Regions from separate parts of the Homo sapiens genome. Here region 1 is linked to region 2. The links come from fine-mapping of genetic effects on gene expression. Tissue or cell type: tibial nerve. Region 2 holds a variant in brackets; the other region holds the start of a gene. All regions are shown on one strand. Distances are from middle to middle. Region 1 holds the start of IL2RA (interleukin 2 receptor subunit alpha). Region 2 overlaps IL2RA (interleukin 2 receptor subunit alpha).

Region 1 (2,952 bases), 22 kb after region 2:
CTACTTGTTGCCATTATAGACTTTCAAAAAACACTATAAACTTTCTTATCTGTCTTCCTGAGTAAGCAAAGGGAAGACATTATTAGAAAATTCACACTCAATTAGGAAGAGTGGTTTGAGGTAGAAGTTGGTGGTTTTTTATTTCTTTAAAAAAAAATATTGGCCAGGCACGGTGGTTCATGCCTGTAGTACCAGCAGTATGGGAGGCCAGGGTGAGTGGATCACTTGAGCCCAGGAGTTCAAGACCAGCTTGGGCAACATGGCAAAAACCCCATCTCTACAAAAAAATAAATTAACCAGGTGTGGTGGCGTATGCCTGTAGTCCCAGCTACTCAGGAGGCTGAGGTGGGAGGATCGCTAAGCCTGGGAGGCGAAGGTTGCAGTAAGCCAATATCGCGCCACTGCACTCCAGTCTGGCTGACAGAGACAGTGTCAAAAAAAAAAAATCTTCGAGAAAATCCATTTGAAACAAGGAATGAAATTTAAAATTTGCATATATAAACACGTATACATATACATATCATGTATATACATAGGATTATGAGAAGTAGTAATGTTCTAAAAGTGAGTATGCATATTTTTAAAAATTTCTGTAAAGTTGCACTTGTAAGGAAATTCCTAGGTGTTATTTCCTAAGACGTAAAAGCAGTGTATACATCCTTGAAGCTAAACTTTTCTGAGATCTTAAATTCTCCCAGTGTTTGATATATGAGTACTCATGTCTCCAGCAAATTAACCTGAACTTAAAGAGCTTCCTGATAGCTTCTTAGTTGGGGGGTGGGAGTGCAGAGAATAAAAGGAAATTCATTGAAGAATAAAAGATAATTTCTTGAGAAACCTGCTCATCGGGACCCTGTTAACATCCAAATATCCCAAATATCATGCCACACTATTCTTCCCAGAATTAATTGTCAAGGACTGAGAAGGACAGGAGAACCTAATGCTATTTCAGGCTCTCTTGACAGACCAAGGAACAGTGAGGCATAAACTGGGGTCCCCGTGGGTCACAGGCAAGAGGTGGAACCCAAGATTCAACTCCCTTCTTGGAACCATCTACCTGGGGACTCCCTCTGGTTCTGTGGCTGGGAAGAGGGATGCCCATCAGCCTTCCCGGAATTCCGGGGGCACCCACAGGCCCTTACCTGCCTGGCAGCCAGGCACCATGATGAACGTGAGCAGTCCCCACATCAGCAGGTATGAATCCATCTTCCTGACCCTTGGGACCAGCCGGGGCAGTGAAGCGGAGGTCTTTCTCTGCAGAAGGCCCAGTTGCCGTCAGCCTCTTTTTGGCATCGCGCCGGAGGATGTGGGATGGGAAGATCGGTCCGCCTGGGCTGTCACCCTTGTGGGTCCATCCAGTCTCTATCGGAGTCAGGAGTTGCTCTCTTTAAGTATTGGGCTGGCGTGTTCAGCCAGGAAACTGCCTAGCACTCTCTTCTCTCATCTCAAATATAGGAAGTGTTTTTTTTTTTTTTTTTTTTTGATGACAATATAGTTTGCGGTAATTTTTCAAACCAGGTTTTTTTTTTCAAGTTCAATTGCTGGAGGTGTGGGCTGGGGTTGATGAGAAGGATTGAACTTCATTTATGAATCCTTTCTTCAGCTACGCCCATAAAAGGAGAGGGAGATTCCCCTGCCGTTGAAGGTAGGGTGAGCAAGCACTTCTTGGCAGTGGTCTCACCCAGCACTTCATAAGCTGAGTCCTCCCCTCAGGGCTGTAACGTCCTCAGGAGTCAGCCGGGACCACCTGGGATGAAGGAGCAAAGTCCTGACAAGATTCTGGTCAGGCAGCCTCCAATATTCAAATAATGGAGAAGGATGCGGCGAACTGAAGGATCCTGAGAATTCATAAATAATTCCCCAAGGCTTATAACCTGTACTAGCCATCATCATTTCACCACAGTGCCCTGGGCTCCTGAAAGTGCATTGTCATTTTATAAGGTGTTTTGCTTCCAGATTTCTTTCTCTTAAAGGATCATGCAAAAAGTGGGCTTTGGTTTTAAACTTTGGATTATTTTGTAAAATTCAGTCTTGCTTATTTATTGATCAGAGCTCTCTTCTGATTATTATGAAATGGTTGAGTGTGTTTTGCTCCCTGGAAATTTGTCTAAGACTTAAAGCCATTGCATAGTTAGAGCAAAACACAATTTTTTAAATACTAGAAAGCAAGCAAAGATATTAACAAAAAGAAAACCCTCCGGGCAAGCCAAGGAATTCAGGGTTCCAAAACACATCACGTTGACTGGGCCTGGTGGCTCATGCCTGTAATCCGAGCACTTTGGTAGACCAAGGTGGGTGGATCACCTGAGGTCAGGAGTTTGAGACCAGCCTGGATGACATGGTGAAACCACCGTCTCTACTAAAAAAAAAAAAAAAAAAAAAAAAAAAAAAAAATTAGCCAGGCGCAGTGGCACACGCCTGTAATTCCAGCACTTTGGGAGGCTGAGGCAGGCAGATCACCTGAGGTCGGGAGTTTGAGACCAGTCTGGCCAACATGGTAAAACCCCATTTCTACTAAAAATACAAAAATTAGCCAGGCGTAGTGGCGGGCGCCTGTAATCCCAGTTACTCAGGAGGCTGAGACAAGAGAATAGCTGGAACCGAGGAGGTGCAGGCTGCAGTGAGCTGAGATTGCGCCACTGCACTCCAGCCTGGGCGACAGAGTGAGACTTCCATCTCAAAAAACTTGTCAAAATATGACAAGATTCTCTTAAATTCCACAGCAGGTATAACTTCCTCTCTAGGAACGTTTCTCACTCTGCGGGCAAGTGCTCCAGTAGAAACTCCTAGTACTCCCACCAAAGTCACGCTCCTTTCTTCTTGGGCATGGGAGTAGAATGCACTTGCTGCCTCTCCTGGAAAATAGCTTATGCTTTAAGTAGTTAATGTGGATTGTCATTATAAAATATTTAAATTTATGTTAATGTCTTTTTTTTTTTTTTTTTGGAGCGC
Region 2 (2,500 bases):
TGTCTTCCTTTATGATGGATAGGACAGACAGAAAATCAGTAAGAACAATCAAATGTGATAACCACAATTAACAAATTTGATTCCAACAATAGCAGAGCCCACTCTTTTTTCAAGCACACATGGGACATTTACAAGGCAGTAGAGGAGTTGAAGGCAAGTTAGGGGCAAAGAGTGGGTATCTATGGGGTAGGAAAATGGAAGTCTAGATAAGGAATAAACAGAAGGAAATGTTGAAGGTAAAGCTCTGGGTGTCAGAATCTTCCTCCTCTTTCACTCACTGGCTCACTGTGGTCCCTTCTCATTTCAGATGCTCCGTCTGTAACACGAAATGAAAAGAATTCCTCCCAATCATGTAACCATAGGAGCTTCTCATACACCCCAAGCCATTTCCTTTTACCATGCTGATATGTCCTTTTAGGCCTCTTGACATAGTACCCCTTGCTGGGAATCCTGCCCCTGCCCATGAGCCAGGCAACAGAATGAAGGCTGCTCTTAACTATAAGGTGCCTGAAAGGTGGGTGGGAGTTCAACTGGAAGGTTAGGCACGTCAGGCCATTCTGGCAGAGAATGTGTAAAAGTGTAAAACAGCATCATCATATGGAAGATACAAGAGACTACAGGTAGAATGTTTTGCTGAAGCATGAATCGTGAGGGTATGAAGGATGGAAATATGAGGATCAGTTGAAATAACATAAGTGACATTGAAATCTGTAAAATGCTCCACAAATTTTGATTGTTGCTACAATGACCTCTTGAGCGGTGTTGTTTTTAGAACCCAATGATAAAATATATAGTTACTTTCTAAGCTGAAAAACAATAATTAAAGCGTTCATTGCTTAAAGCTTGATTGTGTCACAACGAGGAAATAGAGTTTCTTTTGAATTCATATTCTAAGAACTATTTATGAGAATGCTGTATTCGGTTGTTTCCTGTCACCTGTATTCACATTAATAGATTATAACGGATTTCAATCTACTGAAGCATAGTCAATTCTCTGATTGCTGCCAACCAAATCACCATGGTTGAATTTGAATATTTCCAGTCATTTTTGATGGTTGTTGCCTGCCCACATTACCTGTTATTTATTTAAACTACCTTATATACGAATACACTTTTATATATAATTTAGAATTTTTTCTTAGCCATCATTAAATCACACCTAAATTTG[C/T]AATACATGGTATTGTCTTAGTTGTTCACTTTGCCTTTTGTCTCTCTTTTCCTAAACCTACCTTTTCTTCCCCAAAGACACTCAAGGACTTAATGGCATCTTTGGGTTTTTCTCACTCCAATTGACTTTAAAAGAACCCTCGTTATTAGTGATCTGATAAAACTGGTAACATAGATAAGGCATACAATTGTTGGAAAAAGAGAAGATAAAAATAATCATTCTATGTGAGGAATTTAATTAAGTACTTAGAAAACCCAAGACGGTTAAAGTATTAGAACTATTAAGAGTTTCATAAGGTGGCCAGATAGAAAATTCATTTATAAAATTCAACATTTTTTATATATCAGCAACAACCAATCCAAAAATATAATGGGAAATGATATTTTTTAACAGTTGTCAATCCTTAGTTGCCAGAAATGTGCTAAGTTCTGAACAGAAGATCCTGGAACTGGGAGAGATGTTAATTAACTGTGGACTTTTAACATCACGAGTACTTTGAGAACTTAAAGGGTGAGTTAATTCTTTTTTTTTTTTTTTTTTTGAGACGGAGTCTCGCTTTGTCTCCCAGGCTGGAGTGCAGTGGTGCAATCTTGGCTCACTGCAAGCTCCGCCTCTCGGGTTCAGGCCATTCTGCCTCAGTCTCCCGAGTAGCTGGGACTGCAGGCGCCCACGATCACGCCCAGCTAATTTTTTTGTATTTTTAGTAGAGACGGGGTTTCACTGTGTTAGCCAGGATGGTCTCAATCTCCTGACCTCGTGATCCACCCGCCTCGGCCTCCCAAAATGCTGGGATTACAGGGGGGAGCCACTGCGCCCGGCCAATGGTGACTTAATTCTAAAAGTAGAATTAAAACATATAATACACAAACCAGTAGAAGGAAAAGAGAAAATAAAGGAAACTCAATCAATTTAACAGAAGACAAGAAAAGATAAATACAACAGTAAAAGAAAAATAATGGTTAATAAAAGTTCAAAGTAAAATAGCATAAATAAGTCCAAATGTAGTACAATAAATATAAATCAATTAAGCTTGCTTGTAAAAGACAGAGGTATTCTGATTGAGGGGGAAAAATTTCCCCCAAAGTCCTGCACAAGGTCTATTTTTGTTATGTCAAGAGACGTCTTTAAAATACAGTGACATGTGAAGGTTGAACTAAAGGGCTGGAAAACACATTATATGCAGATATTTAGCAACCAAAAGAAAGCTCGATAGCTTTAGTAACAGGAGAAACTAGACCAAAAAAGTATTTTCACAGATAAATATCACTGTGGAAGTTATAATAATCTTGACCCTGTAAACACTCAACAATACATATTGTTGATAAGGTAGCC

The links. PIP is the estimated chance that this variant, and not a neighbour inherited with it, causes the effect.
Region 1: it holds the start of IL2RA, and the variant in region 2 is the best candidate, but not a certain one, in a credible set for the expression of IL2RA in tibial nerve (GTEx, PIP 0.63).

The regions. Positions count from the first base shown.
Region 1 is chr10:6,060,946-6,063,897 of GRCh38, forward strand. IL2RA (interleukin 2 receptor subunit alpha) reads right to left here and starts at 1,422. Exons shown (of 8, transcript NM_000417.3): 1 at 1,143-1,422. The coding sequence starts at 1,206. RefSeq lists an enhancer at 1,133-1,182 and a cis regulatory region at 1,175-1,805.
Region 2 is chr10:6,039,427-6,041,926 of GRCh38, forward strand. The region is part of intron 1 of IL2RA (interleukin 2 receptor subunit alpha); the gene reads right to left. Among named protein-coding and RNA genes, the nearest start is that of IL2RA-AS1, 5.3 kb to the left of the region's middle. The variant C/T (reference allele first, on the strand shown) is at 1,169.